3 linked regions of the Homo sapiens genome follow. The protein of the gene in region 3 purifies or fractionates together with the protein of the main gene of each other region. This does not show direct contact. Each region holds a gene or a part of one and is shown on either strand. Other genes may lie near its edges.

Evidence for each region.
Region 1: the proteins of ANO4 (region 3) and ARSB fractionate together in Homo sapiens (co-fractionation; one large-scale study listed by BioGRID). This does not show direct contact.
Region 2: the proteins of ANO4 (region 3) and IGSF3 fractionate together in Homo sapiens (co-fractionation; one large-scale study listed by BioGRID). This does not show direct contact.

The regions. Positions count from the first base shown.
Region 1 is NC_000005.10:78,884,301-78,887,952, forward strand, and holds part of ARSB (arylsulfatase B isoform 1 precursor), read right to left. Parts: intron 1,528-3,652; coding exon 1,284-1,527; intron 829-1,283; coding exon of another isoform or gene 822-828; exon of another isoform or gene 1-821. UniProt on the Homo sapiens protein: Removes sulfate groups from chondroitin-4-sulfate (C4S) and regulates its degradation. Involved in the regulation of cell adhesion, cell migration and invasion in colonic epithelium.
Region 2 is NC_000001.11:116,661,135-116,664,786, forward strand, and holds part of IGSF3 (immunoglobulin superfamily member 3 isoform 2 precursor), read right to left. Parts: intron 1-3,652.
Region 3 is NC_000012.12:100,793,193-100,796,944, reverse strand, and holds the start of ANO4 (anoctamin-4), read right to left. Parts: upstream 2,170-3,752; 5' UTR 1,918-2,169; intron 1-1,917. UniProt on the Homo sapiens protein: Has calcium-dependent phospholipid scramblase activity; scrambles phosphatidylserine, phosphatidylcholine and galactosylceramide. Does not exhibit calcium-activated chloride channel (CaCC) activity.

The sequences.
Region 1 (3,652 bases), on a different chromosome or scaffold from region 3:
CCTTACCTATATTCTTTTATTTAATTTTGCAGTCCATTTGAATTCTCTCTGTGCACATGTACATACATACACACACACACACACACACAATTTTTTTCTGAACCATTTGAGGGTATGTTAAATATATCATGGCTTTTTGCTCCTAAATACTCCATTGTGTATTTCCTATAACTAGAGACCTGAAACCTGCTATTCTTGAGCTGGGATACCTGGAGTGGGATGAAGAGATGGCCTGAGGAAGTCCTCTCCCCCTGGCCACTAAGGGACAGTCAATCAGCTGCTAACCCCAAACAGAGCTGTAACACCAAACAGAGGTTGAAAACCATTGCACTAGGTCATTCCACCCGTAAAAATAATACCTCCAATATATGCATATTTATTTATAAATTAGATTTATGTACAAGTCTACTAATATATTATGTGTCTTAAAAAACATATACTTTAAAAAGGATGAGATGAAATTAGATATTAATACAAATACAAGATTGAAATTTTCTTCCTGTACTCCAAGGGAACATCTTGCAACCTCTAAGGCATGTGCCTCCCAACCTTGGGGGCTATTGCTCTACACTGTGGGGGTTAAACAGGAAAAAGACCATCACGATTTCCAAATCTGAGTCTGGGTCCTGTTCCCTGATGTATCTTCTTCACATCAGCCAGCTCTATCTATCACAACATACTTTTTTGCCTTCCTGGCACTTATCACAACTGGCAGTCATCTTGCTCATCTGTGTGTTCATTTGTCCAACATCTTTCTCCCCCAACTAGAATACAGCTTCCTGAGAGGCAGGATCTTGACTGACTTGTTCATTCCTAATTTCTCAGCATCTAGAAGAAGGTATGGCACATAGTAGGTGCTTGTTAGATACTTGCTAATAAATGGAAATAAACATATCCCTAGTTCCTATTCCAGCTTTTTCCCTGCTGTTTTGTCCTCCATTCTTCCAGCAGACAACAGGACTAGTTCCCTGACCCCCTGCAGGAAGCTAACAATACCCTAGCCTACTTCTAAGCAAAACGTCGCAGCTTCAAAGACCTTCCATGGAGGGCGATGGGCTGAGGACAATCTTGTTCTTCACGTAAAACACAGGCCCACAATCTCAAATTTATAATTTAAAAATATATATACTTACAATGTCTCTAAAGGCACTTATTTTTCTTAAAAATCATGTATTTGTAAGCTGAACTATCATTTTAACACAAAAGCTATCATTCTTGCTCAATGGAGTCAGGCTGCTCTTGGAGTTTCTGTCCTGGGAGGAAAAAGGGCAGGGTGTAGGTACCTGATGGTTTTCCACACGTCGAAGCCATCCAGAGGCTTTGTGCCATTGGTGTGTCCCCTGGCCAGCTTCACGAGTGTTGGCAGCCAGTCAGAGATGTGGATGAGCTCCCGGTTCTTCACGCCCTTCTGCTTCAGCAAGGGGCTTGCCACAAAGCCCACCCCTCGGACGCCTCCTTCCCACAGGCTCCATTTTCTTCCTCGAAGGGGCCAGTTATTACCCCCTGCCAAAGTCTGCCCTCCGTTATCTGAAACACAGTAAGGTCTTGGCATGAGGATGATGTTAACTCTTAAATACATTTAAGAACAGAGACTGTATGTACATTGTTACTAAATGGTGCTTAAATAATAAAAAAAAAGAAAATTCCTTGCCTTTTCCCACCCTAAATTCCCTTTTCCCATTGACATAGCCTTTCATTATTCAGACATAAGTAAGGCCCAGTGTGATACATATCTACCTTTAAATCCTCCATGGAGAGAGCCACTGGAAAACAAGGCAGTCCCTCGATGATATGCGCTTTGGAGATCCCTAAGCTAAACAATCCACTAAACTTTAAATACACCTGTGTAACTTTGTATAGCATGGGAGAATGAGTCCATGGAAGCTGGGACCCTCTCCATGCATGAAGAGAAAACTAAGGGAATTTCACTTAGTGACTTAATGCTCCTTATAGGTGGAGACAAAAACTGACCTTTTTCTTTTCCTCTTGGAAAAAAAATTCTACAATTTAAACTGGAAAATGAATTAACACTCTACACTCTGGCAATAATATCTCTTTCTTAAGTGTGAAAGCTGAGTATTTCTCCAGTGGTTGATAAATGTCTCTGTAAACAGAACATTAGATGGAAAAATATAATTGTGAAAAAAATTTTTCCCCTCTTGACAGGATGGTGAAATAAAGTTTCATTATGCACAATACCAGGGAAGAGAAGGTTTCTCTTCCAAGACAACAGAAGGAATGGGAGATCTTGGCAAAGACAGGGTAGAAGCTACTAGAGTAACTGAAGTTAAGTATCTTCCCAGCCAAATGAGGGCTCAGAGTTAAGACATTAAAGTGGGCAGTAGAAAAGAAAAAGTGCCATTTCTTACATACTGGGGTTATAGAATCATACAAACTCCCAAAGTATCCACAGATTTAGGTGACTTTAGAGACACATTTTAAATAACACATATTTTGCATTAAACTTTAAAAAAAAAACCCACTATTACCCAAATGAGCCACATGAGGGCAGTATGACAGACCACCTGCTGTATAGAATGTTACATATAAAAATTTATTAAGAAATCAGAGATCTATCAAAGCTACAAGATGCATCTGGGAGGAAAGAGAATGAACACTTGTTAAGCACTGACTGCACTAGGAGTGACTCTGATTTTGCATTATCTCTCACAGAATCTGGGGTTGGCAGACCTGGAATAGAAGCCTGAGGCCAGACACTCACTAGCTGTGTGGCCAGGGGTGATATACCACCTCAGTTTCCTCGTCTTCATGTGGAAATAACAATCACTAATTGATTTAGTCCATTTTGTGTTGCTATAACAGAATACTGAGACTAGGTAATTTATAAAGAAAACAGGTTTATTTGGCTCACAATTCTGATGACTGATAAGTCCAAGCGCTAGGCACTGGCATCAGTTGCTGGTGAGGGCTTTTGTGCTGCATCATAACATGGCAGAGAAGTGGAAGGAGAGGCAGGTGCAGGTAAAGAGGGACCAAAGAGCAGGAAGAGCCTCACTTTATAACAACCCACTCTCATGGCGACTAATCCATTCCCTTGAGATTGAGAACTCGATCCTGGGAGACAGCATTGATCTATTCATGAGGAACCCGCCCCCATGACCCAAACACTTCCTACTGGGCCCCACCTCCCAAGATGCAGTGGCAATTAGACTTCCACATGAGCTTTGGTGGAAACAAACCACATCCAAACCATAGCACTACTTCATGTATTATGATGGAAATGAAGTGACATTGCTTATGATCTTTTCTTGGCAGGGTACCTGACACAACCTAAGTGCTCAATACATGGTAGTAACTGCTGTTGTTCTTAAAATTTACAACAACCCAAATAGTTTAGTATTATAACCATTTTGTCACGTTTTTTAAAAGGAAGTTTGAAAAAGCCAAACAGTGAATAGATGGCAATGCTAGGATTCCAACAAGGTCTGTGTGACACCCCAGGCCTCTGCCCCTAGAGCACCACACTCCTGCTATCCCTAGTATAGAGTGGGCTCACACATGTAGGCCACATAAACTTTCACTTCCTGATGAAAACCACAAGTACGGTCAACCTCAGCAAAGTGTACACTCTTCCTATGAGTGTACATAGGAAGTTATTTCAAGGTAATGGTAATTCCTTTTAGAGAAGGCT
Region 2 (3,652 bases), on a different chromosome or scaffold from region 3:
ACAAAAAAATTAGCCGGGTGTGGTGGTGTGTGCCTGTAATCCCAGCTACTCGGGAGGCTGAGGCAGGAGAATCGCGTGAACCCAGCAGGCGGAGGTTACGGTGAGCCAAGATCGTGCCACTGCACTCCAGCCTGAGCAACAGTGTGAGACTCCATCTCAAAAAAAATAAAATAACTGAACACCTGCTTACTTTGCATGGCACAAGGCTGAGTTCTGGGACTACAGTAATGAACATGACAGATGGTCTTCAAGAATTTTATACAGAAGGTCATGCTATGTAAAGTGTTTAGCACAGTGACTGGCACATAAGCACTCTATAAACACTTTAATACTCACTGATAAAACCACAAAATGTAGTGTTTAATTATATGCTGATTTAGGTTGCTTCCTATGAAACAAACGTTGGTTCATCTAACTCATGCCTTCCTAACAAGCCTTCTTAGAAGCCAGAGGCTCGGCTTCAGAGTCAAACGGAATAGCTTATTAGATGTAAGAACACAGGATTTGGAACCAAATGGTCCTGGCTTCAAAACCCTACTCTGCCACTTTTTAGCTTTGTGACTATGGCAGAGATGGGCAGCTGTCCCCCAAAATCTGTTCTCTCCTTTCCCTACAGTCATAGAATCCCAAGTTTTTCTCAGGACACATGGACCCTCAGGATAAGCATATTTTCCAGCCTTCTTTGCAGCTAAATATGGTCACATGACTAGGTTCTAGCCAATGAGAATGTTAGTGGAAGTGATGTATATAACTTCCAGGAAGTATCCTTACATTAAGAGGTCCTACCCTTCACTAGCCTTTTCTTCCTTCCTGATGGCTGCGGCTAGAAGAGTCATCTTGGACCATGAAGTCATCTTGGGAATAGAGAGCATGCACATGGAGCAAGACAGCAGGAGCTTGGAGCCCTAACACTGTCAGCAATCTATCTTAGGCAAGTGACTCTTTTTTTTTTTTTGAGACAGAGTTTTGCTCATTGCCCAGGCTGGAGTGCAACGGCGCGATCTCGGCTCACTGCAACCTCTGCCTCCTGGGTTCAAGCGATTCTCCTGCCTCAGCCTCCCGAGTAGCTGGGATTACAGGAATGTGCCACCATGCTCGGCTAATTTTTGTATTTTTAGTACAGACGGTGTTTCACCATGTTGGCCAGGCTGGTCTCAAACTCCTGACCTCAAGTGATCCACCCGCCTCAGCCTCCCAAAGTGCTGCGGTTACAAGCATGAGCCACCATGCCCAGCTTAGGCAAGTTACTTAACCTCCCTAAGCTTCAATCTCCCCATCTATAAAAATGTGATAATGCAAGGTATCTATCTTACAGGGTTGTTTTGAAGACTGATTGATATAGTTGGGTCACAGTAAGGGCTAGAGTTAGGAGAGCTGGTATTACTGCCATTATGGAAGTACCAGCAGTCTTGCTGCCATGAAAACCGTAGAAGATGGCAACATCTTAACACAGCCCTGGGTACCTGGAGGTAGCTCAATGATTCTCACAGCTGAAAGGCATCCTAGTAGGCCAAGTCCTCCTGACAAGAATTTCCTTCTCCTGCACCCTTGTCAAATGGTCCCCAGGAAAGGGAAGTGCACTACCTCTGGGACAACTATTAGGACAGTGGTGTTTGTTCATCCATAAATCACAATCCTCATCCCCTTCTTTCAGAACCCTTCTCCTGATTGCTCCAAACCATCTCACTTTTCTCTGCCTCCTCTTTCTCCTCTGCCTTTGATCACTCCAGCCCTGCCTCTGAGGTCACACCCATAGTACTTCAAAGTTTCTTTCAATCCCTTTCAGAAGCCTTTTCTAACTAACTGGGAAGTAAGAGATGGCTTCCTCAGCCTTACCGTATTCAAAGAAGAGACTTCCCAAACTCTACAAATGAACTTCTCTCCCTCTGGAGCAGAACACAAATGATCATTTGCCATCTACAGGTTCTCAGATGTCCCAATCTCCTACATTTTTCATTGCTAACACTTTTAAAGCTATTTAATCTTGTTTGCAACATCAGCACTGGTCTGGGAGGTATATAACTCTTCCTGGCTACACAAAATCAAAATGTGCTGTATGTGTCTAAAGCTTATATTCATCTTTCCTGAGAATTTCCTTCCTGTTCTTACAGACACAAATCCTATGCTCTCTTTCCCACATTGCTGTCATCTTCCCATGTCACTGTCACTCATGCAGGCTGCTCCCAGACAGAGGCACTTTTCCAGTCACCCTTCCCTTCCTACCACTGTACCAGCCTCTATTCTCTCTCTAATCTTCTGCCCCTCTGGCCACATCTATCCTCAAATAGAGACTTTACTACCCTCATGGTTCAACCAGAGCCAGGCTTAAATGGCTTTGTAATTGGAACCAAGGGTTGTGGTGGCAGAGCCATGCACTGCCACCACAACCCTTATTGGGTGAGGCACCTAGGGTTAGGACAGAAGGAAACAACACACAGAGGTCAAGGGGGTAGGTACAAAGACAAAGGGTAGGACAAAGACATAAGCAGGAATCAGTATCCCAACAGACAGAAAAGAGGAATCTGATTCCAATCCCAGACACTGGCAAAGGACAGGTGCAGAAAAGCACAGGTCTGTCATGTTGAGGGAGATGAAAGCGTCTCCGAGATTTACCCTGTATACCCCTCACATACTGTCCAGGGTTTTCTAACTAAAATTGCCATTTCTAGAGGCTGGTACCTGCATCGGTCTCACTTTCAGAGCACTTAGCCTTATCCAACTTTTTTAAACAAAATTTTATTCCAGGCATGTGACCTATATGGGCTTAAAACCTTGGGATTCTTCGCTGTTTTAAATTCATACTACACATTAATTCACATTATGCAGCAAGAATGCTGACACATGAACCAGACCACATCAGAAGACAAGCAGGAAATAAGACCCCAACATGGGTTTTGCTCCCTCCCCAAACGCCTTCTACCTCTCCCAGATTAGTAAAGTAGTAGCCAGGCCTCCTTCCTGCCATACTGAGAGCCATCAGGTGAAGAGAAAGATGAGGTTCCACCAGTGGGGCTCCAAATCAGGCAGAGATCCACATGCATGCCTACAGTTCCAAACCTTCCCACTTCAGCCTGCATCTGGATGTCTGCCACTGTGCCCCTTTAAAGCCACCTTGATGCTCATTTTCCTCCATGGCACCTGTTTACACATGAAGATGAGGGTGGAGGGAAAATGACAGCACCTGCCAGGTGCCAGGGCCCGAGCTCCACTCCACAGAGTGGCCCAGAGAGCGAACAGCAGGGGGACCAGCATGCAGCCTTACATTACTTGAGCAGCCAGAAGAAACAAAAGGCACAAATGTCACATTGCCTTGTTTTCCCATTGATGGTTACTTCTCCTGCCCTGGGCCCCACCCTGCCACTCAGCCCTCTTTCCCGCCTTAGCCACACACCCCACCCCACATCCAAACCTCCCCAAGGGCTTTCCTTGTTTGTGTCCTGTTGAATCCACATGAATCACTAATTGCTGATTTAAACCCAGACACTAAGCGAATGACACATACAGTACAACAAATACAGATCCAATATGAAGAGACTGGCAAATGAAGGGCTCCCTGCCTTCTTGACTCTGCCTGAGCATACAGGTGACATGGAGACACTGCCTGTATCCCAGCCCACAGCTGAACAGAAGACTAACTAAACTACCAGCAGGG
Region 3 (3,752 bases):
TTCCATGACACCCAAGCTGATTCTAACACTTTCCATCTTAATGAGTATCCTCAGTTGAGTTACCAGGCACTATATAACATCCTTTCAATTAGAAAAAGAGAAAAAAAGATTAAGCAAAGTAAGAACACACCATTAAGGATGAAAGTAAACAGCTAAACATTAAAGAATTAAAGAGGAAGCAGAGCAGTCTGACAGTCAAATTACAATACAGTATTGCCGCGAACCACAATCGAGTGTAGGGAAGAGTGGATATTAGAACAGCTAAGCCAAGCAATGCTGATAATATTTTAAAAATTGTTTTGAATTTTTTTTTTTTTTGCTGTTAACCTCTGTGCTGGTTTTACTCTTGAACAGGGCTAACATGTAAACATCTACAAATTCTTGTTTTTTATTTAAACGTATGCTTTTACAAATGCAAGGAACCCTTCACTGAAATAAAAAACAAACAAAAACAGAACAACAACAAACGCATCTACTTTGGACCCAGAGAAGAAGGTAAAGGCATATGTCTGATGTCATCACCACTATTTCAAGAAAAATCCACATGAACAGGGGACATAAAAGTAGTGAAAATGAGCAAGCAGTTAGGGAACTTTACATTCCAAACTCCCAAAGAGCAGGAGGAGAGACTGGAAATTTCACCCCACATTCTCTCCCCTCACTTATCACAAAAAATCACATTGTATTAGTTCAGTACCTTATGAATCAGAGACTGAATTACATTTGGCAAGAACCCTCTCTAGAGTGAAATGGACCAGAATGGAAAAACCTACACAAATAAGATAACCCACCTCCGGTCCAAGACTTGAAAATAACTAAATAGAATTACAACTGCGAAGCTATTCTTTGGAATGATGCTTTGACCAAAATAGTTCGACACACCTGCTACCAAAAAAAAAAAAAAAAAATCCCTGTTAAGAGAGACTCCTGCAACGCACAGGAGTGAAACTAATAAAATGTTCTTGGTTTCCTTTGGGCGTCAAGAAGCTGCCAGTAATAGACTTGAAGTTGTGATGCTCTTTGCAGCAAACCTCAGGAGACCAGGTGAAAAATTAGAGCACTATTGTAAGAGTAATGTCCCTGGAATAAACAATCTGCCACATCCATAGTCTTCGTCAGAAACCTGCTTATGTTCTCCTAGAAAAGTCTAACCATTCTAATAACCTCAAAGTATTTTATCTCCTAGCAGGAGGACAAAACTATGTTGTCAACTCAAAAATGTTCCTGTCATCACTGCCCTACCACTCTCTGAAGAGCCTGTAAAATATGGTTTGCAGAACTGGGTACCCTGAGACTCAGAAGGGAAAGAAGCAATGAGGTCATGCAGTCTACTCCGTCTGCCAGCTCAGGATTCCTCCTGCTGAGAATGTTCCTGCCCAAGTTGTAAACCCCACAAGATATAGGGTCATCCCAGACCCACACGGGCAGGTGCAGAAAACACAGCTGCCCACAGCAGACTCAACATAACTCACACGTGTGTGCTCATCTTTATCCACAAAGATGGAAGAGTTTGCTATGTGGGCAGGTCACCCCCGGCCCTTCTGATCCTGAGTGAGTGCCCCTGGCACACTGAGGATTCATCCTGCCCAAATTTGTCAGTCATCCTCCACAGATTCCCTGCACGCTGCTGCAGTTTACCATCGTGAACACATTTCCCCGGCTGCTGCTTCAAGGACAAAGACAGAGCACTTATATTCGTATCACAGCAGAAGAGCTCACGTTTATGGAAAAAAGATAAAAAGACAAACACTCCAGGCAAATGACCCCTGGCATTTTTGAAGCTGGATCATCCCAGACAAGATCCATGAAAACAGAGGAAATGCAGAAGGAAGGTCACTAAGCTTAGCTGGGAAGAGGGGGAACGAACGGTTCAGTTCACTGCAGCAACAGAGCAGCTCATTCAACGTAAGCACTTACCATAAAAATAGAAAGAGTCAACAGAAGGAGAAGGGATCCTTCCTCAGTGCCTTGGTGTCTTCGGCAGAAAGAAATCCACTGTGAACCTCCAGGCTCCAGTCGGGAGGAGGCCAGCAAAGTGATGACAGGCAATAAAACCACCACACACAAGTCCTTTTCAGCCTCCCCTCGGGCCGTATGCAGTTGTTTGTGCTGTAAAAACCCTGAGAAGTCTGGAACAGGACTCTCCGGAGAGCGAGCCGGAGTGAAAGCAGCCTGGTGGATTTCACCACCGTCTCAGAGCATCACGCCCAGGACTGGTCCTCCCCCTCCCCAGGTGCAGGGGAGGCATGGTCGGGGGAGGGTGGGCACTAGGCTGGGCTAGGAAAGGCGAGAAGAGGGATGAAAAGGAGTCTCTTTAGAGTGGAAGGAACTGCCGGAGAGAACATCAGTATTCCATATCAGTTATTGCCAGCGACCAATCAGCCCAGCCAGGGGGCCGTGTCAGTGTGACAAGAGAGCAGCAGATGACAGCCAGTTCTGAGAGCGGCAGGACAACCCCCTGCCTGGAAAAGAAATTTGGGAGGATTGGCAACTTATCCTCTCCACTGCTGCTGTTAATGTTTGCTTGTATTTAACAAAGATCTAAAGCCCCATAGTTACACTAGCCATGCAGGAAGTTTTTGAGGCATCCCACAGCATCTCTGCAAGAAGCCAGACTTGAAGTCCCCTAAATGATGTCTGATGGCATGTCACAGTCCAGACAGCCCTACTGATGTGCCTTCAAGGGGTCATCATGAGTACAGTAATGGCGCTTTGGACCTAAGCTTCTTTATGCCCAAAGTGCAGGATAAGATGACCAGTGACCCGGCTTTCTATTTCAGAAGTGAAAAATTTAAGACAGAGAAGGGTCAAAGGTCTCTCCAGGAATTTGACTGTCAATCTTCATTAGTTTTCTTGTATAATATAGGTATAGAAATATTGTTAGAGGTGAGCTTCTGAAGATAGTTAACATGTCCCTTTTAGAGCTCTTAAATCACCTATAAGACAAAATATGTGTTTGGGATAAACAATAATAACAATTCATAAACACACTGAAAATTGAGAAATTCTGACTTACACTAACAGAAGGAGCAAAGGAGCAAATCTCTTGGTGATAAATGAAGGATGCGTGGAGGACTCTAAACTTTTCCTACTTCCCTTTTCCCCTATTCTAATATTGAACTTATAAACTTTGTCCATATATATTAATTAATTTGTATTTGGTTGTGATGATTACATTATATAGGGATGTAGTTTCTGAAGTTAAATGCCAGTTTAATTGGACTCCACAGTAAAACTTCAGAACTTTTTGTAAGATGGGGAGATTGTCTTGGGCCACCTTTTTATCACTGCAGAAAAGATAACTCCCTTTAGTCAGTCAAGAGTTAACAGGAATATACAAATGCCCTCGGGTTTTGTTTTCTGTTTTTTTTTTCCAGGTGACTTACATGATGTAGAGTTTTTAATTTTAGTTGTCTGTTTTTACCTAGAAGTTGGAATACCATTTGCACATTTTGCTGTGATCTCTACCCGTAGGCAAGCTGACTTTGGGGAGCCTGAATACCACAGCTTAAAAGGAAGGGCTGAGCTCCAAGGAAGCAGATAACTCAGCACCAAAATGAGTCACAGCAGAAGGCCATAAAAAATGTTCCACATCAAAGATGAACATAATAAAGTGAAATTTTTTAAACGAAGAAGAAAGGATAGTTTGCCAGGGAAGTCCTTGTAAATTATATAAGGAAAACCTGGGAGACTTTGATTCTCAAATGCTGTTTTGTTATTCTCCTCAGTTCAACTCAAATCAGCAAACATTT